4 linked regions of the Homo sapiens genome follow. The protein of the gene in region 2 purifies or fractionates together with the protein of the main gene of each other region. This does not show direct contact. Each region holds a gene or a part of one and is shown on either strand. Other genes may lie near its edges.

Region 1 (7,623 bases), on a different chromosome or scaffold from region 2:
TGAACCTGGGAGGCAGAGGTTGTAGTGAGCCGAGATCACACCACTGCACTCCAGCCTGGGTGACTGAGTGAGACTCTGTCTCAAAAAAAAAAAAAAAAAAAAAAAAGTAAGAAGCACATGTTGGAGCAAGAACTAACAAAGAAATACATTTATGACAACACTTTCCACAAAGACACCAGAAAAGGAAGGGAGATTCAACTATCGACCCCTAGGATCTTTGGAGCCAGCTAACCGCATTTAGCCGTCTCTCCAGCTGCATGAGAAAATTAACTAGAGTCACAATTGCCCGTAGCCACCAATCCTTTCTTTGAATGAAATCTCATGAGACAGCCCAATATGTAAAACATGATAACCAAAATATGATAGCCAAAAGCAATTTATTATAGTTTAGCCTCAAAAAAATAAAAATAAAAAAATTATCCAGTGGTTATGAGGAGTCTAGGAAAACCTGTCCCAGTAATGCCAACTTGGAGGTGAAGGGCTGACTGGGGCAGCTGAGAAGTGGGACCTTCTGTTTGGCAGGCTTCCTCTCCCTTGCCTGGTCATGGTTTTCTGGTGAGAAGAGTGTTCCTGGCCTTGCTGGAGGTTCCCATGGCCCCGAACTAACAGTGTTTTTCTGAAATTTCGACCTGCTCCGTTTGAGAGAGTAGAATTCCCTCATCAAGTCCTCCACCTCCCACTGCTCTTCCTTCAGCCTCTGGCAGCAGTGCAGGGCGGCAGGGTCGATGGGGTGAGCTTCTGTGTTGAAGATGTACCCCCCAGCCCCCAGGATGCACTCCCCATAGGGGGTGATCACCGCGTCGAAGGTGGACCCATTGTTGTGGATGAAGTTGGTTGGGTCAAACAGGAGGTAGAGGTATTTCACAGTCTCGGCCAGGAAGAACGACTCCATGCGGTTGTCCAGCTTGTGGTCTCGCAGATCTTTGATCTGACATGTGGGAGAAGGAAGCAAGCTGGAACACCATCACAATTTAGTAGTAAGGGTCAGGCAATCCCTTAAGAAGGCCTGTTCTGCCACAAAGCAGCTGAGGGCCTGTGAGCAAATCACTGAACTTTTCAGAACTTCACTCTTTCCCAAGCCACCATCATCTCTCACCTGGATTATCACATAAGCTTCCAAATGGGCTCCCAGCTTCCAATCTTAGCCCTGCAGTTTATATACACACACTATTTTAAAAAATAGGGACAGGGTCTCACACCATGTTGCCCAGGCTGGTCTCAAATCCCTGGGCTCAAGCAATTCCTCCTACCTTGGCCTCCCAAAGTGCCAGGATAACAGGCGTGAGACACACACCAAGCTCCTACAGTATCTGTATAACATAAGTCTTCCTGTCAATTCTCTACTCACAACTTTCTGTGAGCCCTCCATTTCATGCAGGATAAAAATGCAAGTCATGACCTGGCCCCTGCTCCCTTCCTGCCCTCACCTCTTACCACTCTAAGAGCTCCAGCTGCTGCCTTTCTGTCCTGAGCTAGCACAGCACCCTCCTGCTTCGGGCTCTTTGCATCTGTGGTTCTTTCAGCCTGGAGCACTCCGCCTCCAGTTTTTCTCATAGCTTGTTCCCTCCCTTCCTTCAGGTCTCTGCTCAAATGCTTCCTCACCAGAAAGGTCTCCGCTAACCTTGCTCTATGACATGACAATCTCCTATCCCCTTTATCCCAACTTTTTGTGACTATAAACATAGAGCTAATCGTCCCTTTTAATGATGGCAGAGTATTCCATCGTGAAAATGGATCACCATTTACTTGGCTAATCCTCCTTGGAAGGGCATTCAGATGATTACCAAGTTTTTTTTTTTTTAGAGATGGAGTTTCACTCTGTTGCCCAGGCTGGAGTGCAATGGCATGGTCTCGGCTCACTGCAACCTCTGCCTCCCGGGTTCAAGCAATTCTCCTGCCTCAGCCTCCAGAGTAGCTGGGACTACAGGCACATGCCACCACACCCAGGTAATTTTTTTTGTATTTTTAGTAGAGACAGGGTTTCACCATGTTGGTCAGGCTGGTCTTGAACTCCTGACCTCGTGATCCGCCTGCCTTGGCCTCCCAAAGTGCCGGGATTACAAGCCTGAGCCACTGCGCTTGGCCAATTACCAAGTTTTTGTAAGCAACTAATAAGGGGTCTTTTTTTCTCCACTCAGACCCAAAGTATCGACACTTACTAGGTTCAACTGCTGTTGATGAAAACTATTGACATTGTTTTAGTAAGGAGTCTTATTTAGAGAATTTCAACTGAGTTTTCAGGCATGGATGACTAAGATTACTTGCTACAAACATTTATTTTAGCTTCTCAGAATTAGTAATACTTCTAAACAAAACATTCTCAGTGGACTCTATCTTACATTTAAAAATATGACTCAAATATGGTCTTGATGTATCAAGATGATTATTTCCTTGCCCTGTTTGAGAAAGGTCAGACCCCTGTTCCCATCATTCACCATGGAAGACCTCCAAAGGGCTTCATGTTCATGGAAATGAGCCCAGCATTCCTAGGAAGGCCCCAGTGGGCTTATCATTTTGGTTTTTCACACAATACAGCATATTAGAAACCAAATCATATCAGGGGTTTATTTTTTCCCTTCCACATGTAGGTCTTCTCTCTTCCCCTACACATATCTATATTTTACTTATAGAATATAATCACATTACAAACTTTTGCAAAATAAGTGTTTTGTTGTTGTTTTGAATTCCATACCCCAACACTGTAGGCTTTTCAGGGGATTTTCTTCCAGACTATTTTCTTCTACTTTCATATTTATATCTTGCCTGCTTGGTTCCTGCATGGATGTGAGATGGCTCTCACCTTTGACCCTTTCAATCTATTCTTCACAAAGCAGCCAAAGCGATCTTTCTAAAATACAAATCAGATCATGTCACTGCTCTGCTGTAAATCCTACCAAGGGTTCACATTCCAAGTAGAAAAAAAAACCCAAACTCTTTCCTGTGGCTTACACAAAACCCTACATGATCTAGCCCCTGCCTACCTCTGGGACCTTATCTCTTCCCACTTTTCTCCTTGCTTGCTCCGCTCCAGCCACACTGGCCTTCTGTCTACCAGATACACATTCATGGTTTTTTTCTCATTAAAATGTAAGCTCCATGAGAGCAAGGCCACTGCTGTAACCCTTGGGCCTAGCAGAGTGCCTGGCATGTGAAAGACATTCAAGAAATATCTGTGAGACTAAGCAGGACTGCTTTGTTAAGGAGTCCCAGGTTTGAATATAGGGCTATGGGACTCTGGATTCCCCTTAAAATCTATTTTAGTGTCTCACAAAACTTTTCGCTAAACTCACCTTTTCAAAGTCACCTATTCAAACAGATCAAAGATCTCCACTGTGGGAGGAATGCCAAGGGCCGGGGTCAAGATCCCAAGGAACTAATTCTAGCTCTACCTCTACTAGCTGTGAGATCTTTAGCAAGGCACTTAGCTTCTCTGTTCTTTGGTCTCCCCATCTGTAAAATATGAGCATTATGTATATCTCCAAGGTCCCTTCTAGTGCTGATATGTCAGAACTCCCAAAGCTCTACCCTTAAAGAGGCTTTTTAGCAGCAAGGGGAGACTCTTCCCAGTTCTTGGGGCCATGCAAACACTTACTGTTGCAAATCCGCACTCCACCTTGCTGATTTTTTCAATGGATTCCACAGCATCTCTTCCGAGTTCTAGGAGGGTGGGATCCCCCGTGGCACGGTAGAGGTACATTGCGCTTTCAATAAGTTCTGCAAAGTCCAAAGCAGACCCTCCTCACTCAGTGGCTGCACAGAGATGGCCTGGGGCCTCTTAGGGCCGTGAGGGACTACTCCCCTCCATATCTTGTCCATAAGGCCCCAACTAGCAGGAACACAGGATACCTCACCCAGTGCTGAGTTTCAGAGCCAGTATACCCAAAGCTTGAAGCTCAGTGGAGACCAGCATTAAGGCTGACCAGTGACTTCCACCACAAGGGAGAGAAAGGTGGCCAGGTTCTGGCATAGAGAAGGTGGCGGAGGTTGTTGCCTAATTCCCAATATCTGTTCCCCGCTTCCTCCTTAGTAGCAGGATTCCTAACTTTAGCTAAGCACAGGCTGCCTGGCTGCCAACACTAACTATTCTAACAGCTAGGTGGGATTAAGGACACCATGGCGAGCCATATAAGCCCAGAACATGAGAGAGAAATACATTTCTATCCTAATTAAGCTACTATTTTTTTTCCTGTCACTCAGAGTCTAACCTAATTCTAAAACTCAAAAGAAGAGTAAGAGCTTGGCATCATAAGGCTCGTTCTAAGATAGGATGGACCAAAAGAAAAGGCTGAGATATCCAAGAGCAGGCCAGGCATGGTGGGTGGCTCATGCCTGTAATCCCAGCACTTTGGGAGGCCAAGGTGAGAGGATCGTTTGAACCCAGGAGTTTGAGACCAGCCTGGGCAACATGGCGAGATCTTGTCTCTACAAAAATTAAAAATGATTAGCTGGGTGTGGCATGCACCTGTAGTCCTAGCTACTCAGGAGGCTGAGGTAGGAGGATCACTTGAGCCCAGGAGTTTGAGGCTGCAGTGAGCCATGATTAAGCCACTGCGGCACTCCAGCCTGGATGACAAGAGTGAGACCTTATCTCAAAAAATAAAAATTAAAAAAATAAAATAAAATAAACCACCAAACCGTCAATCTAACAAAGACGTAGTCATCAGTTCACTGTGGCCAGAAAAAGTGATGTTTTGTCTTGCCCAATTCTATGCCACAACTGGAACTTGATGTTAAGACATGAGCTCTACCTTAAGATGAATATTAGCCAACAGGAGTGGGTCCAGATGAGAATATTTATTCTAGAGATAAGGAAATCCAAAAAAAATGTGTTTATTGCTTTCAAATACCTGAAGAACTGTTGTAGAGTTGACTTCAAGGGTGGCCTCAGCTCAGTATGTTTTTCTACTTCATCCATCTTTTCTAAGAGACAGAAGAACCCCTGTCTCCTTTCTATACCATCATCTCCCCCTGACCTTCTCCTGTCCTGTTTCCTCCTGGGCTTGATCAGTGCTTCTGTCCCTTTTGGCTTATTGCTGCAAACTCTGGTTCTTATTTTATTCCGTTAATTACTTTTTTGTGACAGAGTCTCACTCTGTCACCCAGGCTGGAGTGCCATGGTGCGATCTCCGCTCACTGCAACTCTGCCTCCTGGGTTCAAGGGATTCTCATGCCTCAACCTCCCAAGTAGCTGGAATTACAGGCATGCGCCACCAGCCCTGACTAATTTTTGTATTTTTAGTGGAGACAGGGTTTCGCCATGTTGGCCAGGCTGGTCTCAAACTCCTGACCTCAAGTCATCCGCCAGTCTTGGCTTCCTGAAGTGTTGAGATAACAGGCGTGAGTCACTGCACCCAGCCTCTAGTTCTTATTTTAGAGAAAAGGTCTCTGCCTATCTCCCCAGTTCTCTCTTACTTCCTCCTCCCCTCTCCTCACAGGCCTCTAGACAATTGCTAATCTAATTGCTCATATTCTAAGGCACAGACTAGGGTACATTCATTACTAGATGAACACATTCTGTGTGTTCAAAGGCAGAAAAGACAGTGCCCTCATGGGAGGCCTCCTCTTCTGCTTCTTTTTTCGGCTTCTTCTTTTTTTTTTTTTTTTTTTTTTGAGAGGGAGTTTTGCTGTGTTACCCAGGCTAGAGTGCAATGGCATGATCTTGGCTCACTGCAACCTCTGCCTCCCAGGTTCAAGCAATTCTCCTGTCTCAGCCTCCTGAGTAGCTGGGACTACAGGCACATGCCACCGTGCCCGGCTAATTTTTGTATTTTTAGTAGAGACAGGGTTTCGCCATATTGGTCAGGCTGGTCTCGAACTCCTGACCTCAGTTGATCCACCGCCTTGGCCTCCCAAAGTGCTGGGATTACAGGCGTGAGCCACCACACCCAGCCCTCTTCTGCTTCTAGCAGCTGGTGGGCCAGTGCCCTCATGACCAGCCATCACGCTTCTCTCCTCACATGTGGGCCTCCTAAGCATGTTAGTTATTGCTTTACTTTCCTGTGCATCTGACCAACTCTGTCGAGCAGTGGTCCCCAACCGTTTTGGCACCAGGGACCAGTTTCATGGAAGACAATTTTTCCATGAACTGGGCTTGTAGGAGATGGTTTTGGGATAATTCATGTGCATTACATTTATTGTGCACTTTATTTATATTATTATTACATTGTAATATATAATGAAATAATTATACAATCCACCATAATGTAGAGTCAGTGGGAGCCCTGAGTTTGTTTTCCTGCAACTAGACAGCCCTATCTGGGGTTGATGGATGACAGTGACAGATCATCAGGCATCAGCTTCTCCTAAGGAGCACACAACCTAGATCCCTCACATATGCAGTTCACAATAGGGTTTGTGCTCCTATGAACGTCTAATGCCACCACGGATAAGACAAGAGGCGGAGCTCAGGCAGCAATGTGAGCGATGAGGAGCAGCTATAAATATAGATGAAGCTTTGCTTGCTCACACGCAGCTCACCTCCTGCTGTGTGGCCTGGTTTCTAACAGGCCATGGACTTGTACCGGTCCACGGCCTGGGGGTTGGGGAATCCCTGCTCTAGAGGAAGGAGACAGCCCAAAGTTCAGATTTGGACTTAGAGGAAGGTAAAAGCCTGCAGAGGCCTTTAGGCTAGGCTCTGTGCTCCAACACTGCTGATCAGAGAGACATATACGAAAGTACAGGGCTCTGGCCAATTTAGTGAAAGAGTAGTCCTTATCTCCTATTTGCCATTGTTTTGGGGTAGGAGGGATGACTGGATTAACGCACTCCTGGATTCCTGACAGCGGTGCCTTATGTTTTTTTTTTTTGGAGACAGGGTCTCACTCCATTGCCCAGGCTGGATTGCAGTGGCGCCATCATGGCTCACTGCAGCTACGACCACCTGGGCTCAAGTGATCCTCCCAGGTAGCTGGGATGGGACTACAGGCATGCAACACCACTCTTGGCTAATTTATTTATATTTCTTATAGAGACAAGGTCTTGCTATGTTGCCCAGGCTGATCTTGAACCCCTGGGCTTAAATGATCCTCCTGCCTCAGGCTTCCAGAGTGCTGGGATTACAGGCATAAGCCACTGCATCTGGCCAGTAGTGTCTTACTTTCCATGAATGCCTTCCTGCCAGCCTGTCCCAAATGGAACAGGTTGCCTCTGTTAAGTAGCAAGCTCCTTGTCACTCGTGGTAACTAAGCAAAAACTAGATAACCACTTGACAGGGCCATATTAGGAAAATTCCAATTAGAACACCTCTCAGGTTCCCTCTAACCCTAAGATTGTGCAAGCCTATGTCTTACATTTAGTTCCAAACCCTAATCTTTACCTGTTGGTAACACCAGATACGATACCTTCTCAGAGCTTCTTATTTTTAAAATTTACTTATTTATTTTTTTGAGATGGAGTTTTGCTCTTTTTTGCCCAGGCTGGAGTGCAATGGCGTGATCTCAGCTCACTGCAACTTCTACCTCCCGGGTTCAAGCGATTCTACTGTCTCAGCCTCCCCAGTAGCTGAGATTACAGGTGCACGCCACCATGCCCAGCTAATTTTGTATTTTTAGTAGAGATGGGGTTTCACCATGTTGGCCAGGCTGGTCTCAAACTCCTGACTTCAGGTGATCCACCTGCCTTGGC
Region 2 (6,593 bases):
GGGGCGCCACCTCCAGCCCCGCCCCAGCCTCATACCCAGTTCTTCAGCTCGGCCAGCGGTAACTGAAGCCTCCCAGAATCCTGGATCCGGGCCCCTAGTACCCTCTTTCCCAGGGACCCAGGAGTCCTGCCTCCAGTCGCCTGCACTTGTAACTGAGAGCTGGAGGTCGTCCATAGCAGCATAGTGAGAGTGTTTTTGATGAGGGTATGCAGAGTGGGGGTGACCATGTTCCCACCTGGGGCCTCAGGTGGGCCAAGGCCTACCCACTTTAGCCAGCGTCCCCTCCAGCAGCCATCAGCAAGCCAACCCACTCCAAGCCAGGGCCCCCTTTGGTCCTTGCACTTGAGGTGCTTTGTTCAGGGCTGGGTCAGGAGTGGCAGAGACGATGTCCACCACCTCAGTACTGGGGAAAGTAGCCTGGTTCCTCCTCGTGGGTCCTGGAGAGACAGAGAGACTGATGGAGAGGCAGGCCAGGAAGAGGGAGAGTGAGAGTGGGACACACCGAGGTGCAGACAGAAACCGGTGGGCAGAAGTGGGAGACAGGGGGCAGGTGTTTCCGGGCCCCGAGGCCAGGGGGCAGGAGGGCATTTAGACAGAGACATTGGATGGACAGCCAGACAATGTGCCCAGGACAGGCAGAGAGAGAGAGAGAGACCAAGCAAAGAGGGAGAAGGCCATCAAGGGTCAGTGAAGGGGAGAGGGTACACCATCTTCCTTCACTGCCAGTCCAGCCCCGAACTGAGTCCTTTCCTCCAGACAGTGCCAGAGCTGATGAGAAAAGGCGGCCTTGTCTCCCAGCCATCCCCCGCCCCCTTAGCCACATAGGGTGCTGGCCACAGGAACCCTTCCTCCAGGATGCCTTCCTGCCCAAGTCCCAGCCCCCTCACCAGCTACTTGGACTGCTGGCTGGGTTCTGGAAGCTGCCTCGGCCCCAGGGCAGTGCTAAGCAGCTCAGTCAGGGCATCCAGCTTCCCCGCCAGCGTGTCAATCTGTTTCTCCAGGGCCCGGTGTGAGCTGCTCAGATTCTGCTGCAGGTCATACAGGATCATGTGCATCTGGGTGGGAGGAGAGGATCAGAGGTGTCGGGGCTGGGGTCGACCCCCACCTACTCCATAGCGTAAGGCAATGGAACCAATATTGACCACATCCTTATGGTCCTCTGAGGATTACCCTCGACAATAACTGTTACCATGTATTGACCACCTACCACTTCCCAGCTACCTGCCCAGGTGTTTCCCTATATGGTTTAAAATCCTCCCAAAAGCCACAGGGAGTGGGAATCCTGTTCCTGTCTTACAGCTGAGGAAACAGGCATGGAACAGTTAAATGACATGCCCAAAGCAGCTCCTGAAATAAGACCTAGAACATAGCAGGTGCTCATTAGATATTTCTAGCATGGATGATGCCTGACTTCCAAATCCACATAGTCTTTTACTGCATTCTCTGGCTAGGATTCACTAGTTGATCCCTGAGGGTTTGTGGATTTTCTATGGAAATTCTTGAATTCTGTGTTTTTGGCTTGATAACCTTCAGAAATTACCACCTGCCAATTCCTGCAGATCTGGGCCACTGCCTCGTCACTGAGACCTGCCATGCGGTTTTGGGGCCTGCATCTGTGACCGTGCTTACCATGGCATTGCTGCCAGGGGCCACTGTTTGAACTGTCGTGGGCTAACGAGAAAAAGCAAAGGCCACCAGATAAGCAGAAGATGCTGTGAGCCAGGCCAAGGGGGTGTTGTGACATCATTGTCCCTAAGCACTGGCGAAATCAAATGGTCTCAGCAGAAGAAGGGGGCGGGTAGCTGAGTCACGCCTTGGCCAGGCAAACTTGCATGGACGTCCCTGTTGCCCTGAGTACCCCTCCACAAGAGCAGCAGAGATTGAGTTTTACGGAAACAATGTCACCTGTGTCCTTGTCAGTGTTGTTCATTTTAATTGTATTGGTTTTGCCGTCTATGGGCTTGGTTTGTAAATTTGCTTTGGTTTTATTGTATGAGCTGTAGTTGGAAGGAATTTTATATCCGTCCACATGTAAGTAACTTAACAATAAAGATAATTTGAAACCAAACACTGGGGTTCTTTGTGCAATTTTTTTTTTTTCAGTTTGTAAGGGATCTGTGCCTTTCATGAATGTAAGAAGCTCTGTGTTGCATCATTCATTCCTTCCTTCCTTCATTCAACCACAGACCTTTACTGACAGGCTGTGTGTGCCAGGCCCCTGCCAAGGTTCCCTGTTCTAGGGCCAGATTTCCCTCCCTGTGGCCCCAACCTCCCCCTTCTTCAAGACCTCCTCCCACGGGATCCTAGTACCTTGGAGATGTCCACCATGGAGTTCACTTGTTCCCGGAGCTTCCGGTGTTTCAGCCGCACCTGGCGGAACCTGTGGGAAGAAGTGGGGAGTCAGTTTTACAAGCCTGGTCCCTGAATGTAGCTGTAGCTCAGGGGAGGAATGAAGGGAGGAGAGGCACATGAAGAAACAAAACAAAGAAACAAAGTTGTCGAAGAGCTGAAAGAGTGGGAGGGGATGCACCCTGCCTCCCCACGAGCCCCCATCCCCAGTAGAAACCCAGGTACCCAGGTCCGCAGACACACCGAGATATGCGGAGACAAACCAGCACAGACACATAGAGTCATGCACGGTCAGATCCAGGTGAGACCTGGATGTTGAGTGAGACCACACCTGGGTGTCCTGACCTGGACAGGCATGGACATGCACACACACAGCCGTGCAGAGAGGTGACTTGGACATGGGTGCACATGGACACGTGTGCATACAAAGCGGCCCTCACGCGTTGATGGCGGCCAGCAGCTTGCGCTGATGCCTGCGGGCAGCATGAGACTCCTTCCTGCGAGTATGTTTGTAGAACATCCAGGCTTCTTGTAGCACTCGGGCAGCGGACTCCTTCATCTGGGGGTGGGTGGCACAGTGTCCGTGGAGATAGACCCTTACGGTTCTGGGAAGGCAGGGCTAGGGCTGGGACTCTTGGGTCCTAGGGGAAGCAGGGGCGCCTGGACTCCTGCTTCTTGGAAGAGGGGTGTCCCATGGGTGCCATATGCCCATCTCACCTCTTTGGTATACTGGATATCCATCATGAAGTTGTGCACGTGCTTCTCTGCCTTGTTAAACTCCAGCTTCCGGGCCACCACGGCCACCAGCAGGGCTGTGCAGCAGACACCCTGTGGGCACAGCAGGCACCGTGGCATGAGGCTGTGCCACCGACTCCCTCCTTGAACCCGCCCAACAGCCACAGACGGTAGGCACGACCATCCCCAGTTAGCAGACAAGCAAAGAGGCTCAGAGAGGAGAGCCAAGGTCCCAGCTCAGAGCGGTGGAGCTAGAATCATAAATCGCATACGTCCGAGCCCAAATTTGATGCATAGCATTCACACCCTCAGGGTGGCCTCTTGAATGAAGGATAGGATTGGAGGAGTGAGAGGAAGGCTGGGTTCTGAGCCAGGGGCAGGCCTCTGGGTCCTCAGTGCTCATGTGGTCAGCCATTGCACTGTGGAGGGCGACCATCCTTCTCCCACTCCCACAACTTCTTCCTAGCTCCAGCCCTGTCTTCTCTCTCCTGGACCGTCTCCAGCCTCCCACTCATCCTCCCCTAACCCCCTTGGTCCCCTCTAATCTCCCAGGCTTCCACTGGCCTGAACGTCTCAGCCTGGCTCCCAAGGCCTTCCAAGGTCTATGCCTCCCACCTGGACAACTCAGCCCTGGCTCCATGCTGCCTGCCCTCCCTGAGCACCTTCCTCCGAACACTCATTCTCCTCCCTTCCTTCTCCCAATGCTCCTGGCCCTTCAAGGCCTTGGCAATTCCTAGCTGCTTGTGGCATCTGCTCACCTGTCCCCAAGTTAGAAGGAATCTTCCTAGGAAGCATCCCCAACCCTATAGTTTCAGCTCTTGATCACTCAGAACAACTTCCAGTCACAAACGCTGGCTCCAGGGGACTGCCTGGGTTCCAAGCCCAGCTCTGAGCAAGTTATTTAATCTCTCAGTATTTCAGTGTCTCATCTGTGAAATGGCCTCACAGGGTTACTAGGTGGATTTCATGAATTACCCCTGGCAAGTGTGTAGGGCAGAGACTGGCACAGAGTATGTGCTCCGGAAAAGTAAGCTTTTATGGCCCAACCATGCCATGGAGCCTTTCTTCCAGGAGCAGGCTGTGAGCTCAAGTGCACATCACCCTATCTCTCTAGGTTTCTGTTTCTCCTTTTGTCAAATGAGGGAGGAGGTCCTGAGCGGTGCTGCAGGTCCCTAACTGAGTCTCTGCCCCTCTTCCCTTGCTCCAAAGACTCACCACTGGGGGAGTGGAGGTCACCACATCCTTCACCTGTGCACCTAGGGATTGGGGGATGAATATGTCCTTCCTAGGCCCACATCTGGGCTAGGTGCTGGTGGCTTAGGTCCCCGAGGGTGAGGGGAACCCGATCTTGTAGGGAGGTGAAGGCCAAGGCATTAGGTGCTAGTCTCTAGAGGGGGCCAGGGCTGGGTGGGAGGACCTGAGTGACTGGGTCTATGGAGGGAAGGAGGTGGATGTCAGGGTTCAGGAAGAGGCTGACTCAGGCTGCAGAGCCTCTGCCTCATCCTTGAGGGCAACAGGAGCTGGTGTGGGGTGGCTGGATGCCTGGCCACCCCTAGACCTGTTTACTGAGCACCTCCTGTGGGCTGGGCACTGTTGGAAGCACTTTACGTAGTTGGACCCATTTAATCATCTCAGCAAGCCCATGAGGAGCATCAGCATCCCCATTTTATAGATGAGGAAAGTGAGGCCCCGAGAGATCACGTGGCTCGCCTGAGCTCCCCAGCCAGGAAGTGGCAGCCGCAGGATTCGGACCCAGGTAGCCTGGCCCCACAGGTATGCACTTGATAACTGGACTCTACACCCTTGATGGAGGCTGGGAGACGATTTCCCAGTTCTGGAAGAAAATGGGGCTGCGAAGTCAGGAGCCTGGGTCCCTGAGGAGGATAAGGGCTGGGGCCCTAGGTTCTAGAGAGAGCAAGGACTTAGGGGCTGGATTCCTAGGTCTGATTTTTTATTTTATTTTTTAAGAGACAGGGTCTCACTCTGCCACCCAGGCTGGAGTGCAGCAGTATGATCATAGCTCACTGTACCCTCAAACTCTTGGGCTCAAGTGATCCTCCCACCTTGGCCTCCCAAAATATTGGGATTACAGGTGAGTATCTTGTTCTTGAAGAGAGAATGGGGCTCTGGGGGCCCCAGACACTCAAGTTTCTCAGGAGCTGTCCCTGAGAGCCTGTGTTGAACCCATTTAATCATGGCTTCCTGGGGCCAGAGGATGACCAGTTTGGGATAGGGATCATGTCCCCAAGGCAGCTGTACTCACCATGACTCCAGTGCACAGGCAGACGATCTTGCCCCACATGGTGCCCGGCACCACGTCACCATAGCCGATGGTCAGGAATGTGATGGGGATCAGCCAAAGTGTGTCTGAAAGGTGCCCAGTGGCATTAACAGCCTGCCTATGGGGAAGGGTAGGTTAGTTCTAAAACCCCACCATAGAGGTTTCCATGATATTCACTCCCCTTCCCTCTATACCCTCCCATCCCCTTCCCTCTGGTTCCCTCCCTTCCCCTCCCAGTATACACCCATAGTCCTAAGAATCACCTGGACAAAAAGCCATTAAGTTCTGAGCTTTGGAAAGCCTGCATGGCCTCCTCTCTGCTGTGTGACCTGGGCAAGTTGCTTAGCCACTCTGGGATTTGAGACTGGGTCTGGCCAATCCCAATGCCGGTATGGTCTCAGCTAGGCTACCCGGGCTGCTGTAGCATTCAGAGCGTGTGGTTGAGGGTGGAGAGTCGATAGGGGGCCAAAACCCAGTCAGACCCTGACTGGTGGCTACATCCACCCAGAGGAAGGGGTATATTTTTCTAATTTCCACAAAGATGCTGTGTGGTCCAGAAGTGGCCCTATCAGGACCAAAAAGGACTCTAAAAAGGCTTGGTGGGACTCGGCCTTCCTTTCCTCTCACTTCACAGAGGAGACATTTAAGTCCAGCCATGGAAGGGGTTGAAACATTGAGATTTGTCTAACTTTGTCCACAGGCCCCTTGCCGCAAGACCAGCAGGGAAAGCTTCATTCATGAGGGCCCCTGACACCCCAGACCCACCGGGTTGGAGTTTCTAGGAGCGAAGATGGAATCTGTACTGTTCACAAACCCCACCCCCTCATTCCGAAGTACATTCTAGTTTCAGGACTTCTGCCTTGGAATGTGGAACTTTGACTTCCTCCCCATTCTCCCATCATTCAATTGAGAAACATGGTGGGGGGATCATTCATTAATCCTGATTCTGACCAATTTCCCAATTGTGAAAACTAAGATCCTGGAAGGTGAAGGAGTTTAAACTCATGACAGAGGGCGGGCATGGTAATCCCAGCACTTTGGGAGGCTTAGGCAGGAGGATCACTTGAAATCAAGAGTTCAAAACCAGCCTGGGCAACACGGTAACGTGGTCTCTACTAAAAATACAAAAACTAGTCAGGCATGGTGGTGCACATCCGTAATCCCAGCCACTAGGGAGGCTGAGGCATGAGAATTGCTTGAAGCCGGGAGGCAGAGGTTGCAGGGAGCA
Region 3 (7,623 bases), on a different chromosome or scaffold from region 2:
GCTGCGGTGCAGTGGCGTGATCTCGGCTCACTATAACCTCCGCCTCCTGGGTTCAAGCGATTCTCCTACCTCAGCCTCCTGAGTAGCTGGGATTTACAGGGGCATGCCACCACACCCAACTAATTTTTGTTGTTGTTGTTTGTTTGTTTGTTTGTTTTTAGTAGAGATGGGATTTCACCATGTTTGCCAGGCTGATCTCAAACTCCTGACCTCAGGTGATCTGCCCACCTCAGCCTCCCACAGTGCTGGGATTACAGGTGTGAGCCACTGCACCCACCCTACAAAATACTTTTAAAAATTAGCGGGGTGTGTAGTCCCAGCTACCTGGGAGGCTGAGGCAGGAGGAGCTGTTGAGCCCAGGAGGTTGAGGCTGCAGTGAGTCACAATCATGCCAGTGCACTCCAGCCTGGGTAACAGAATGAGACTCTATGAGAAATCATCATCAATCATCATCATCATCACGTCATCATCATCATCTTGGGACATTCTAACTTAAAATAAAAAAAATACGGAAATCAGATGAGAGGGACCTTTGCACTTGAAAGTGGAACAAGCAAGACCACAAGATCTGCTCTGTGTGGTTCTCCACAGCCTGCCGTGACCAGTTCCACAGAGCGGGACCACAGCACTGGGGTTCTCAAGACCTCTTTTCATTCTGAGTCTTTGTGTCCAGGGTGGCCTGTCCACAAAACATTTTGCATCATTAGCTTTGGAAGGAGCGTTCTGGCATTCAGGTTTCAGATAATAGAATGAAGTGTTTAAAATGACAATCCCTTAATTTTACAAGGAAATTGACAAAGGGAGGCATGTAAGCCTGAACTTGGGTTCAGTGTACATTTTTTTTAATGAAAAAGAGACTGTAAAATTATGTGAATTTCTTCAAGTATATCCCTCCAAAGCTGTACAAATTGGACTTCTAGATAAGATCATACATTCCCATTTCCACCTGTCATCTCCTGTTGAGCAGGCAGGGAGGGAAAAGGAGCTGGTGACCTGGGTTTCTCTTGTTCCTCAGTACAGTACGATGATTTATGATTTCTAAGCCTGAGAATTTCGGAAGCCACTGAACATGAAAAGAGTGAAAAATCTTCTAAGTCAAGAGAAAGAAAGGAGATAACTTGGTAGGACAGTGTGCTCTTCTCTCAGACTCTGAAACACTACTCTGAAAGCTGTCACGAGTACGCATCGCATGGGCCTTTGCAGACAAAAAGGATTATTTTATCCAGATTATTCCCCCACATTGCAGGGGAAAAGGGACTCATTTGTAATCATCAAAGGAATGCTGACAGACTTGAAATGGGATTACACTCTATTATACTCATCCGAATTAAAGATTTGTTTTGGAGATCATTCTTAGGTTTCTTCCTCTCTGCTCCTCCAGCCCCAGATGAGGTGATTTGTATTCACAGGGCATCAGAGGCAGACATGAAATCAGACTGTTCACAAACATACATTTCAGACTCCGTGGCCTGAGTTTTGAATTTTAATGTTGCCTGGTTTTCTGCGTGTGGAAAACTTGGCTCTCAGATTGAAACGAACCCTAAGCATCACTTCATCCAAGCATCATTTCATTCTCTAACTTGTTAGTGCAGGAGAAATTCATTTCCAGAGGCTTGAGTGAGCAAATGATACAGGTGTCGGAGAGAACATAAGGATGAGAAATTCATGTAAGGAAATGTAAAATCTATGCATAGCCAGAGTCATCTAGTAGGTCTGTGAACATACTTCCAAACACTCAGTTCCAAGCTCTGTGGTTTGCTTACTAGTTTTTGGAGAATGTGACCTGCCAAATCGATTGCTCATCCCTCAAACTCCTCTGTAATGTGTGTGTCCATGAACCCACTAAGAAGCAAGCTTCCCCAGGGAAGGAATGATTTTTTGGAGTAGGTTGTACCATATCTAGCACAGCATCTGGTACCTGAGAGGCTTTAGACTGTTTCCCATTCTTCCCTACAGAATTTCTAGTGTGTGGTCACCATGAAACTGAGGCTCACCTGTGGAGGAGCCTTGAGTATCTCAGGGTGGAAGTTATAGTCCTTGGAAGAGCTCAAGTGGGTCAAGAAAGTGTCTCATGACTTTTGCTATCAAAAGAGTGAAATATATTACAGAACATCCCTCTCAATACAAAAAGATTATACTCCCTCAGCAGGAAGACAGAGCAAGGAATGTGGATAAAGTGCATTCAAAGTTGTACCATTTCTTTGTCCACCATTTTTTTTTTTTTTTTTTTTTTTTTTGAGACAGAGTCTCACTCTGCTGCCCAGGCTGGAGTGCAGTGGCATGATCTTGGCTCACTGCAACTTCCACCTCCCATGTTCAAGCGATTCTCCTGCCTCAGCCTCGTGAGTAGCTGGGATTACAGATGTGCACCACCATGCCCAGCTAATTTTTGTATTTTTAGTACAGACATGGTTTCACCAAGTTGGCCAGGCTGGTCCCGAACTCCTGACCTCAAGTGATCTGCCTCGGCCTTCCAAAGTGCTGGGATTACAGATGTGAGCCACTGCACCTGACCCCTTTAATAGTTCTTTTAGTAAAGATTCATTAGCGGTAAATTTGTCTTTCCTTCACACACTCTTGAAAAGCAGTTAAGCTGGGTATATAATTCAGGACTGATGGTTGTTTTTTGTTTGTTTGTTTCTCAGAACCTGGAAAATATTATTTCGCTGTCTATGGCTCCCACTGTTTTTGTAGCAAAGACTTTATAGATAACATTTCCTTTACTATCTGATTGCTTTTAAGACTGTCACTTTGTCTTTAGTATTTTACAGTTTCAGTATGACACATTCAGGTATAAATTTATTTTATTTATCTTCCTTGGAATGCTTAACTCTGAATCTTTCATCAATCCTTAAAAATTAATCCTAGGACACCATCACTTTGAGTGTTGCCTCTCTCTCCTTTTCCCTACTTTCTTTTTCTGGAATACTGATCAGATGTATATTCAACCATCATTCCATCCTCCATGTCTTATGACTTTTCTTCCATGTTTTCCATATGTTTACCTGTTTTGCTTCATTCCGGATAATTTCTCCAGCTTTTTTTTCCACCTCACTGTTTCTCTCTTCAGCTATACCTAATCTGCTCTTCAACCTACCCATCAGGCTTTTCATGTCAATGAATATATTTTTCATGTTAGTAGATATCTTTGATTCTTTTACAAATACACCTGTTTTTTCTCGATAGCCTTTTGTTCCTTTCTCATGTTTTAGATTCCTTCTTAAATTTCTTTTTAGATTCCCTCTTTTTTTTTTTTTTTTTTTGAGACAGGGTCTTGCTCTGTTGCCCAGGCTGGAGTGCAGTGGCACAGTCTCAGCTCACTGCAACCTCCACCTCCCAGGTTCCAGTGATTCTCATGTCGCAGCCTTCCAACTAGCTGGGATTACAGGCACCCGCCACCACACCCAGCTAATTTTTGTATTTTTTAGTAGAGACAGGGCTTCGCCATGTTGGCCAGGCTGGTCTTGAACTCCTGACCTCAGGTGATCCACCCACGTCGGCCTCCCAAAGTGCTGGGATTACAGGCATGAGCCACCATGCCCAGACCTAGATTCTCTCTTTTATTACTTAAGAACCGTGTCATTGCTGCTGACTACTGCTCATATAATGTAATTTTGAATTGTGTGATCATAATCAGCAGCATTTTAGCTATAGGAATCTATAGATGGGCCTATATTGATGATATTCCCATGAAGGCAGTATCTGTGTGTTTGTTTTTGCCAGGTATCATGGGACAACTTTATTAGTTTCTCAACTTGGGTTTCCCAGTAAAGGTAATATGAATTCAAAACCCAGACTCTCCAAAAGGCAGAATTTTGATTACACCATCTCAAGAGACATTATTTTTTTCTCCAATCCTGAACCTAGGCTATGACAAGTTTCCTTGTCATCTTTCTTTACAAGAAGGCTGATTTGTTTTACATCCACCTTTTAATGAAGGCTTAGGTTTTCAAAGTCCTGGCTTTATATAGAGGTCTTTATTCTAATTCCTCACTATACAGTGGTCTCACTCCTTATCGCCTGCGCTCAGGCACCTGTTAAATCTTCGTTGTCAAGACCATCAAGCAACTCCAACGTAGCCATAGGGTTAGCACCAGCTATCATCCCTAGTTCTCTATTCTCTCTTCATTTTTGTTTCCTCACCACTCATTTATACATTAAAAGATTTTTCTTATATTTTATTCAGCATTTCTAGGTGTTTTGTTGGGGAAATAGTTTCAGAACACCAATTTCCAGAAACAAATTACAGACCCAATTCTATAATCAGTTCTTTGAGGCTAGATGGTACTATCTTTAAACAGGACAAGGAATGGACATTACTTATGTAAGTCCTGGGAAAGATTTGGCTCTAGGAAATGAAGAGATAAACATGACAGAAGTGCCACTGCTTTAAACTGCATGTAATTTATTTTGTTTTATTCCCTTGGTATTAGAAAGGCTACCTGGATTCAAATCCCCAAAAGTTACTAAATTGCTCTTTGCCTCAGTTTCTTGAACTTTTTATACTAGCATCTCCTTTATAGCTACAACTGGGAGGATTAAATGAGTTAACATGAAGTTCTTTGAACAGTGTCTGGCATAGAGTGCTTTATGTGCTTAATAAATTATTTTTAGGGCCAGGCACAGTGGCTCACTCCTGTAATCCCAGCACTTTGGGAGGCCAGGGCGGGTGGCTCTCTTGAGTCCAGGAGTTTGAGACCAGCCTGGGCAACATAGTGAGACCCTGTCTCTACAAAAAAAAAATGCCAAAAAAAATTAGCTAGGCCTGCTGGCATGTGACTATAGTCCCAACTACTAGGGAGTGCTGAGGTGGGAGGATGGCTTGAGCCCCAGAGGTTGAGGCTGCAGTGAGCCGTGATTGCACCACTGTATTCCAGCCTGGGTGACAGAGCAAGACCCTATCTCAAAAGTAAAAGATAATTTTTTTTCTTTTTTCTTGAGACAGGGTCTCGCTCTATTGCCCAGGCTGGAGTGTGGTGGCATGATCTTGGCTCACTGCAACCTCCGCTTCCCAGGCTCAAGCAATTCTCCTGCCTCAGCCTCCCGAGTGGCTGGGATTACAGGCGCCCACCACCATGCCTGGCTAATTTTTGTATTTTAAGTAGAGACAGGTTTCACCCTATGGGCCAGGCTGTAAAAATTTTTTAAAACCCTAAAAGTATTTTTAACTCACCAACTTTTTTACTCATACTGAGGGAAACCAAGTAAAGAAGTTACTGCCTCTGCTGAGCCGGTGGTGCACACATGGGAGCCAACTAAAGGGGTGGCAGAACGAGATACCCCAAGGGGCAAGGGGAAACTCAGAAGACACCAGAATCACTTGGTCAGCTGCCTTTCCAACCCAAGATTCTTTTTCCAGTACTAAAATCTTCATGACTGTAGGATTTAGGATTTATGTTATTATGAGAAACCATTTCCTTACAGAAGGATACAAATATACCAGCCTCATTAAAATAGTGACAAAGTATCATAAAACTTCAGACCTCCCCCCAGCCCCCACCCCCGCTCCCACCTTCTTGGTCCATTGCTCAGCTTCAGTGACAGTATGTTTTTTTGTTTGTTTGTTTGTTTTTGTTTTTTGTTTGTTTTTGTTTTTACAGGAACTCGCTCTGTCACCCAGGCTGAAGTGCAGAAGCACGATTTCGGCTCACTGCAACCTTCACCTCCTGGGTTCAAGTGATTCTCCTGCCTCAGTCTCCCGAGTAGCTGGGATTACAGGAGCATGCCACTATGCCCAGCTAATTTTTGTATTTTTAGTACAGATGGGGTTTCACCATTTTGGCCAGGCTGGTCTCAAACTCCTGACCTCAAATGATTCACCTGCCTCGGCCTCCCAAAGTGTTGGGATTACAGGCGTGAGCCACAGTGCCCGGCCATCAGTATGGATATTTAAAACCCAATAGGTACTGGGTTCAAATCCTGCTTCTAAATTTTATTAGCAGCTGTGGAGCTGGGGAGAGCAGTACGCAAGTCAGGCAATAGGGGTGGGTAACGAGGGAGCAATTGTTCTCTCATAGTACATTACCCTCAAAGTGGTGCCTCACTAAGAATTTTAAAGATATTAAGCCAACAGGATGGCTGTGAAGATCAGTGACCTCCAAATTTTTTTAACTCATGAACTCATCTACGCAACAAACCTTCCCATGCACCCCCAAACCTAAAATAAAAGTTTTAAAAAATAATTATTATTACTGGCAGAAACAATTATAAAAAACATTATGAACAGAAACATTTTGAGAACACATCTCCAATATATGCACACTTATTTATAAATTACATGTTGTTCTGTCAATTTATATGTTAATTATAAGCAAAACTTAACTCCTTTTTTTATTAAGATGGAAAACCAATAGGCAAGAACAGAAGTTCTGACATGTTTTTCCTACCCCACTGGACCACTTTGTGAGTGCACCCACTTTGGAAGGACTGTGATGAAATGATGCTGATGGGAGGGTAGGAAAAGGTCAGTCTATTCAGAAGGTAACCAAAATGGCAGCAATGACCCCATGAACTTTCAAGAAAGGTTAGGCAAATTGTGGTACTTTTTTTTTCTGGCCTTGCTCCTCCCTACCCCCAACACCCTTGCAGGCGAAGTCCCCAGCCTGGCCCCATCCCTGTACTCTGGCCAGCCCTGGTGCTGGAGCCTGCCTCAGCTCTGCTCCCTAGCTGGGTGGTCTTGGGCAACTTTGTTACCCTCTCTGAGGCTGAGTTCTCATCTGCAAATGAGACTGGTCCTGATCTCACAGAGTTGCTACGAGGATGAAATCAGATAAAACTGAGTTCAATTAACTTTTACCCTCTTCCTTTCTGTTTCTTCCCTGAAACTGCTGCTAGGCTCCCCTTTCCAATAAAGCACCTGGGAGACCAAAGCCATCAATAACAGGGACCACTTGTGGGCCGAGACTCTTCTCTGCCATAAAAAGAGCCGGCAGAAAACTTTTCAGATGTAGTCACTTTCCATGGAAACAGATGAGCAGATTCAGACACTGGCTATTCATCTCTCTTCTTCTGTGGCCTCTAGACAACTCCTTCGGACATTTGGTTTGTTTTTCTTTAGTTACGAGCTGGCTTTTCACTCCATAAATTTTTTTAAAGTAAAGATAAATCTTGAATAAAAAGGATGATGTGACTGAGGCATCATGAAATGCAGAGGGAAGGGTGTGTGCATGCGTGTGTTTGCATGGCTGTGCATGCACAGGTGTCTGTGTTGCGAGGTGCTGATATGCTGGGGAAATACAGTCCTGGTCTCCCTGGTGATGAGCCCTAGGGTAGGGGGTGAAGGGGACACCCAGCCACACTCTGTGCCCTTGGATGACCTGATGCATGGGCAGAAGGTCACCCTCCCCTCTGAACTCCAGAGGTGTCCTCAACTCTAGCTGCATATTAGAATTGCCTGGGGAGCTTTCAAAAAGAGATCAGTGACTGGCTCTCCCAGGGCCAATTACATCAGAAGTCTTGGGGTGCAGCCTGAATGTCCATAGATATTTTTTTAGTCTCCCCAGGAGATTTTATTGTGCTGCCAGGACTGAGACCCAATGCTTATCTGAAAGCAAATAACAGGGTTCAACCTCTCCAAAATGAACAACTGTGTCCATCAATACTGAGTTCCCACCTCAAGGCCCC
Region 4 (7,623 bases), on a different chromosome or scaffold from region 2:
CTTCAAGTCCACACAAGTTTTAAGAAATCCTACACCAACAGTTCTTCTCCCATTTCTAATTATTTAACATGTTAGGTCAGAAGCAAATTGTTTTACCTTAAGAGTTTCAAGTGTACCATCTTCTTTGGCAAGGACGCTGCCAGTGATTCCTAAAATGCTAACGACATTCACTCTAACCCCGACATTACTACTATGAATGCCTGCTTTGCATAATGTCATCAGCTGATCAGGAGTCATGCACTGTTAAAAGAGAAGAGGACAGTATTTATAATGTTAAACTCAATTAATTCTATCAGCATGTGAAAACCGGACTGACAGGAATCTCCTCTATAGGCTACAGGATTTTAAGAGTGACATAAACTCCTGGCAGGTAAGTTACTATTAATATGTATTCCAGTTCTCCCAGACAGAGCTGGTAATTCTGAACTAAGGTGAACCCTGCTCATGTCGGCACTGTTATCTAATATCAAAGGGGCTCCATTTAATTTGATGAAGACTTTCATTCCAGATGTACACACACTAAAGAGAGTCCAATTCCTTTTTAATATTAATGGTAAGAAAAAGGCTTTGAAAGTATAAATAGGATTGTGTGGTTTTAAAAAAATTGGCTGAGTCTATACAAGGTAAGAACTTACTTTGAGATATCTGTATTATCATAATTAAAGACTGTAGAAACCATTACATTATATGGTGCTTCTACCATGTAGTGGATAATTTTCAGTTTAAGGCTGGGCGCGGTGGCTCACGCCTGCAATCTCAGCTACTCAGGAGGCTGAGGCACAAGAAACGCTTGAACCTGGGAGACAGAGGTTGCAGTGAGCTGAGATTGTGCCACTGAACTCTAGCCTGGGCAACAGAGTGAGACTATCTCCTATAAGCAGCAGCACAGTGTAGTGATGAAAGGCTTGGAATCTGGAGCCAGACACAAAGGCTTGGAATCTGGAGATTGAACCCTGGGTTCAAATCCTAGCTTCACTACTTATCACTCGTGTGAGCCCCTACACTAGACTAATGTATTTTTATTTTTTGTAGACATGAAGTCTCACAAAGTTGCCCAGGCTGTTCTTGAACTCTTGGGCTCAAGCAATCCTCCCGCCTCAGGCTCCCAAAGTGTTAGGATTATTAGTATGAGCCACTGCACCTGGCCCTGAACATGGGCTTTGAGTAATTTTCCTTAACCATCACACTGATCCCATAAGCTGCTGCTTACATACCAGGGGAAATCAATAAAAATACTTGATATTCCTATAGGCCCTAGAGTATAAGGTTTTCTGGTCCATCCAACAGCCACATGGCAGGCTATGCATCCCATTACCATTCCTACTTCTTAGAAACTGAGGGTCAAATTATGCTCTTCAAAAAAATTCTTAGCTTTGGAAAGCTGAGGCAAGAGGATCACTCGAGAGCAGGAGTTTAAGACCAGGCTGGGCAACATAGCAAGACCTCATCTCTATTAAAAAACTAAAAAATAAAAATAAAGTATAAAAAAATTTTAAAAGCATTAAGAAAAAAATTATATAAAGAAGCAAAAAGAAATAGTGTTATTGGCAATAACAAGAGCATTGTTATTTTGATACTATTAAGTACATTCCGTAGGATAAAGCAAATAATAGTTTTAATGTCACTACAATTTTAATGTTACTACAGCAAACAATTTTAATATCACTGTATAGCAAATAATTTTAATGTCTTTTAATGTCACTACTACAAAGTACATTCTGTAGGAGAAAGCAAATAATAAAATTTTTGAAAAATATTTTTCTTTCTTTTCTCTAATTTTAATTTTTAAATTATTTATTATTATTATTATTTTTGAAACGGAGTATCGCTCTGTCGCCCAGGCTGGATTACAGTGGCCCGATCTTGGCTCACTGCAAGCTCCGCCTCCTGGGTTCACACCATTCTTCTGCCTCAGTCTCCTGAGTAGCCAGAACTACAGGCACCCGCCACCACACCCGGCTAATTTTTTGTATTTTTTAATAGAGACGGGGTTTCACTGTGTTAGCCAGGATGGTCTTGATCTCCTGACCTTGTGATCCGCCCACCTCGGCCTCCAAAACTGCTGGGATTACAGGCGTGAGCCACCGTGCCCGACCTATTTATTATTATTTTTAAAGCCAGTCAAACTTAGCGTGGGGGGTTGTATACCAACTTCAGTGACACTAATGTTAATAAGTCCTGATAACCCACTACCATCAGACCAGCTGCAAATAAGAATTTTAATGTCACTAATGTATCTTTTTGGGTACAATGTACCTTTTTGGGTACAAATGTATCTTTTTGGGGGATACAAAAAGATAGAAATACAAAATCGAAAATTAAGTAAAAATATTGTACCATTTTTTATTTAAACTGGAAATTATCAGGATAAACTTACTATTTTTGTCTCCTAAAAAAATGCCTATTTCCTAGCTATTTCCACTAAAAAGACCTAGAAACAATGGCAACATGATAGCAATAAGCACTCCACAATTCACTTTCCCCACTAAAGAAATCAGAGCTTCTTGGAGAAGTAACTAATTCCAGGGTTTTTTTTTTTTTTTTTTGAGACGGAGTTTCACTCTTGTCACACTCTTGTCACCCAGGCTGGAGTGCAGTGCAATCTTGGCTCACTGCAACCTCCACCTCCTGGCTTCAAGCGATTCTCCTGCCTCAGCCTCCCAAGTAGCTGGGATTACAGGCGCGTGCCACCACACCCAGCTAATTTTTGAATTTTCAGTAGAGACGGAGTTTCGCCATGTGGGTCAGGCTGGTCTCAAACTCCTGACCTCAAGTGATCCGCCCACCTCAGCCTCCTAAAGTGTTGGGATTACAGGCATGAGCCACTGTGCCTGGCCAGATTCCAGGTTTTAAGCAAGAAAATTACAAATTGAACCTGGGACATCCTATGCCTGGAAGCAAAAGTGATCAAAAACCTAAAATTCTTGTAAAAGAGGCACAGGAGCCAATTTGAAGGGACTCCTACTATCCAAAGATGGGATGAATTTGGCAGCAAAAAGCATGACTATAATGGAATGAAATACAAATATATAAAAAACCCTGAGTTCAAAATGATACTAAAAAAAAAAAAATCACTGGTCACTTATAGAGATTGCTAGGATAGCTATTCTGAAAAAAAAAAAAATCATAGCTAATAAATGTAAAAAAAAAAAAAAGAAAAGACAAAATTAGGGTATCTCTATTCTGCAACCCACTAATGACATAATGGAGCCAGGCAACCACAATCACTGGTTATAAAACCATTATGTGAACCCACTAATTAATCTCAGCATCACTATTTTATAATATCATATGATTTGTGATATAAATATAGGAAATATATAAAGCACTATAAATTATTCTTGCCAAAAAATCTGGACCTGTCTAGATTATTTATTATAAATACAAAAAATAAATAAATAAATAATCTGGACCTGGATCTAATTAAGGCTCTAGACCTAGCTCCCGGCTCACAGGAAACATGGGGGACAGAGGAATGCTGAACGATGCCATCATGATGAGTTGGCCAAATCTGCCAGTGCAGAAAATGCTACGGAACAAAATGAGAGTTTCTTCAATGGGTAAGTGTATGGGGAAAGGAGGGGAGTGAGGGAAATGCTATAGACTAAGAGATTTAAGAATATGAGAATATACTAAAACCACTGAATTGTACACTTTAGTTACTTATTTTTGAGACAGAGTCTCCCTCTGTCGCCCAGGCTGGAGTGCAGTGGTGCAATCTCAGCTCACTGCAACCTCCACCTCCCAGTTCAAGCAATTCTCCCTGCCTCAGCCTTCCAAGTAGCTGGGATTACAGGTGCCTGCCACCATGCCCGGCTGATTTTTGTATTTTTTGTAGAGATAGGGTTTCGCCACGTTGGCCAGGCTGATCTTGAACTCCAGACCTTACGTGGTCCACTGGCCTTGGCCTCCCAAAGTGCTGGGATTACAGGCGTGAGCCACTGCAGCTGGCCTGAACTGTATACTTTAAATGGATAAACTGCATGGTATGTGAATCAAATCTCAGTAAAATTTTTTTTAGAGATAATAAGAGACCAAAATATCAACCAAAAGCAACACATGAACCTTGCTTAGATCCTGATTTGAACAAGCCAACTGTTAAAAGACGTTTTTTTCTTTTTCTGTTTTTTTTTTTTTTTTTTTTTGAGACGGAGTCTTGCTCTATCGCCTAGGCTGGAGTGCAGTGGCATGATCTTGGCTCACTGCAACTTCCGCCTCCCAGGTTCAAGTGATTCTCCTGCCACAGCCTCCCAAGTAGCTGGGATTATAGGAGTGCGCCACCATGCCCAGCTAACTTTTGTATTTTTAGTAGAGACGGGGTTTCACCATGTTGGCCAGGCTGGTCTTGACTTCCTGACCTCAGGTGATCTGCCCGCCTCAGCCTCCCAAAGTGCTGGGATTACAGGTGTGAGCCACCGTGCCTGGCCATGTTAAAATACATTTTTAAGGCAATCTGGGAAAACTGAACTTAGACTGCAGCTGGGAAAACTGAACTCAGAGTGCAAACCAAAGGATAATAAGAAATATCCGTTAATTTGGAGCCTTGGGGTAATGGTACTGGGGTTAAGATTTTTAAAAATTTATTTTTCTGTCAGACATGCATACTGAACTACATAATAAAATATTGATGGGTCTAATATGATTTGCTTTAAAATACTCCAGGAAACAAAAATAAGGACCCAGTGAGATGAATGAAACCATGTCACAAGAATGACAGGACGCTAATAACCTGCTGAGGCTTGGCGACGGTGCATGCAGGCTCATAGGGTTATCTCTGCTTTGGACATGGTAGCGCACACCTGTAATCCCAGCTACTTGGGAGGCTGAGGTGGGAGGATTGAATCCAGGAGACTAGCCTGGGCAACACAGTAAGACCCCGTCTCAAAAAACAAAGCAACATTATTATCTCTGCTTTTAGGAATGTTTAAAAGTCTCCTTAGTAAAAAGTAGCAAAAGTGGTAAGGCACCTATGGGAGATGAAGTGCACATGGATTGCTGTGAAGGGTCAGGAGGGCATGCTTGCAAAGTCTGTAATGAAATGTTAAAAAAAAAAAAAAAAAAAAAGCTGGGTACGGTGGTTCACGCCTGTCATCCCAGCACTTTAGGAGGCCAAGGTGGGTGGATCACTTGAGGTCAGGCATTTAAGACCAGCCTGGCCACACGGCAAAACCCCGTCTCTACTAAAAATACAAAAATTTTGTGGTGACGCATGCCTGTAATCCCATTTACTTGGGTGGCTGAGGCACGAGAATCACTTGAACCCAGGAGGCAGAGGTTGCAGTGAGCTGAGATCATGCCACTGCACTCCAGCCTGGGCGACAGAGGAAGACTCTGTCTCAAAAAAAAAAAAGATTTAAAAAAAAGACCAATGATAGAGAAATTATTTACAACATATCTATCAATTAAGTTGTATTGATTAAAAAGCACTTGTTTTGCTAGTAAGCCTATATATTAAAAAATTTAAAAAATTAAATTAAAAGCACCTGTGTGTTGCTGATGGTAGGGAGCAGAAAGATATTACTTTTTATTTTAATCACTTTTGTTTTATTTTTTACAAAGATCACATATTATTCTTGTAACAGAAATATGTATTTTTTAAAATAGTGAAGTAATGAATTTTGCCTCCATAATACACAATCTTTACAAGTTTCATACAAAAAATTTTAAAACTCTTACCTGGGAAATGTTCTTGGAGGCCATTGTTTGCAAAAGGGCCCTCAAAGCACTACTTATGGCTTCTAGAAAGTCAACATGTTTAGCAAAATCTAAAACACAAAAATGAAATATAAAATTTGCATTTCTCCAAGATAGGCTATTTTGTAGAAGCAACAAACAAAACAAAGCATGCTAAATGTTAATAAATGCTATTCTTAATAAAACAAACAAACAAAAAAAAACCCTCGATATTTAAGCCAAAATATTTAGTTAACAGCCCCCTGTACACTCTATACCTAAGTCTGAAAGATGATCGTGGTTAAAATAATCACAGCAAGGAGGTGTTCTACAGACAGTCCTTGACTTCCAGACACTGGGTTTTCATTTGACTCACACTTCAGCACATAATAAACCTAAGCTAGCTTTTGCAGACTGAATTCTGTCATTCATAGATCTCCATCAGGGTGCTGGGTAGAACTACCTTTGGTGGAGTCAGAATGCTTCCTTGCCAACCCAAGCCCACTGCTTAGCCACACACTGTTGCTTGTGCAGAGCCAGGACATGATGGCACCATCACTTTAACTGACCCAGCATCCCCTTCCCACTCCTACTCCTTATTCGCACACTTTTCTTATTGTCCCTTCTTCCCACACGGGACAAACAGAACACCAGCAGTAAGCCATTATGCTGGCACAGGCACGTGCAAGGGACAGTGAGGGTCACCCAGGGGAGTTGGCTCCTTAACCTCTTTGATGGGAAGAGATTTGCTTGGTGTGGTAGACTGTATTTTCTAAAAATGGCCATGGCAATATTTCAAGTCCTGTGTGATCTTCAAGAACCTTGCCACTTCCCATAAAGATGTGAAATCTACTTCTCCTTTCCTTAAATCAGGGTGGGACTTTGTGACTTCTTCAACCAACAGAATACAAAGTGACGGGCTAGGTCACAAAAGGCAGTATGACTTCCAGCCCTGACGCATGTGTGCATGCTCTTTTTTCTCTCGACTTCCGCCCTGGGAACCCAGCCATCCTGTTATGAGGAAGCCTGCGTCACATGAAGAGGTCACTGTGGGTGTTCTTCCTGACAACCCCTGCACCAACTGCCAGACACGTGAGTGAACAAGACTTCGGATGATTCCAGCCCATACTCTGCGAGTCTTCCAGCAGAGGCCCTAGACTAGTATTTCTCAGCCTCTGCACTACTGACATTTTGGACCAGATAATTCTTCATTTTATGTGTGCGCAGGGGTCTCCTGGGCACCGTAGGATGTGAAGGAACATTCCTGGCCTCAACCCTCTAGACACCAGTTGCAATTTCCAAGTTGTAAAACCAAAAATACCTCCAGACGTTGCCAAATGTCCCCAGGTGGGAGGTGGGAGGGGATAAGTGGCCATGGTTGAGAACCACTGGCCTAGACATTGTGGAATAGGAAAAAGCCATCTCCACTGTGCCCTGTCTAAATTCTTGACCAAAGGAAACTTCGAGAAATAATAAATGATTGTTGTTGTTGTTAAGTCACAGAGTTTTGGAATAACTTGTTACGTAGCAATAGATACACTCACTTCCTGCCCCACAGTTCCTGGGACTTATACCATTCCGATCCCCCACTTTTAGGTTACCCGGGTAGAAGAGAGGCAGCTTCTGTTCAAATTCTAATCCCGGCTGATTGTATTTTTTGGCTCTTTCATTTTCAGATATGTATTATGTACCAAAATAGGGGATTTCCCGTAATGATCACAGAATAATAGGAGAGCTTTACACACTCAGCCCTAGGATAGAGAGCTGCCTTTGACATAATTATGTGACTCCTCCTGCCTTCATTTTAGTCTTGGCTCAAATGTTACCTCCTCACAGAGGCCTTTCCACACTAACTGGCCTAGTGTAACGCCTCATATCATTCTGCTTTTACTTTTTTCTTCATAGCTAATATCACATAAAACATTTATTTATACTAGAATGCAAACTCCA

The links.
Region 1: the proteins of KCNN4 (region 2) and EDEM2 purify together in Homo sapiens (co-immunoprecipitation; one large-scale study listed by IntAct). This does not show direct contact.
Region 3: the proteins of KCNN4 (region 2) and EVA1C purify together in Homo sapiens (co-immunoprecipitation; one large-scale study listed by IntAct). This does not show direct contact.
Region 4: the proteins of KCNN4 (region 2) and HEATR3 purify together in Homo sapiens (co-immunoprecipitation; one large-scale study listed by IntAct). This does not show direct contact.

What each region holds. Positions count from the first base shown.
Region 1 is NC_000020.11:35,115,006-35,122,628, forward strand, and holds the end of EDEM2 (ER degradation-enhancing alpha-mannosidase-like protein 2 isoform 1 precursor), read right to left. Parts: intron 3,715-7,623; coding exon 3,593-3,714; intron 2,203-3,592; exon of another isoform or gene 2,131-2,202; intron 929-2,130; coding exon 428-928; 3' UTR 359-427; downstream 1-358. Other genes in the region: MMP24-AS1-EDEM2 (ER degradation-enhancing alpha-mannosidase-like protein 2), read right to left, coding at 428-928, 3,593-3,714. UniProt on the Homo sapiens protein: Involved in the endoplasmic reticulum-associated degradation (ERAD) pathway that targets misfolded glycoproteins for degradation in an N-glycan-dependent manner.
Region 2 is NC_000019.10:43,766,653-43,773,245, forward strand, and holds part of KCNN4 (intermediate conductance calcium-activated potassium channel protein 4), read right to left. Parts: intron 5,484-6,593; coding exon 5,348-5,483; intron 3,178-5,347; coding exon 3,067-3,177; intron 2,909-3,066; coding exon 2,790-2,908; intron 2,381-2,789; coding exon 2,311-2,380; intron 1,056-2,310; coding exon 891-1,055; 3' UTR 888-890; intron 438-887; 3' UTR 1-437. UniProt on the Homo sapiens protein: Intermediate conductance calcium-activated potassium channel that mediates the voltage-independent transmembrane transfer of potassium across the cell membrane through a constitutive interaction with calmodulin which binds the intracellular calcium allowing its opening.
Region 3 is NC_000021.9:32,417,685-32,425,307, reverse strand, and holds part of EVA1C (protein eva-1 homolog C isoform 1 precursor), read right to left. Parts: intron 5,486-7,623; exon of another isoform or gene 1-5,485. UniProt on the Homo sapiens protein: Binds heparin.
Region 4 is NC_000016.10:50,092,847-50,100,469, reverse strand, and holds part of HEATR3 (HEAT repeat-containing protein 3), read right to left. Parts: intron 5,766-7,623; coding exon 5,677-5,765; intron 241-5,676; coding exon 97-240; intron 1-96. UniProt on the Homo sapiens protein: Plays a role in ribosome biogenesis and in nuclear import of the 60S ribosomal protein L5/large ribosomal subunit protein uL18 (RPL5). Required for proper erythrocyte maturation.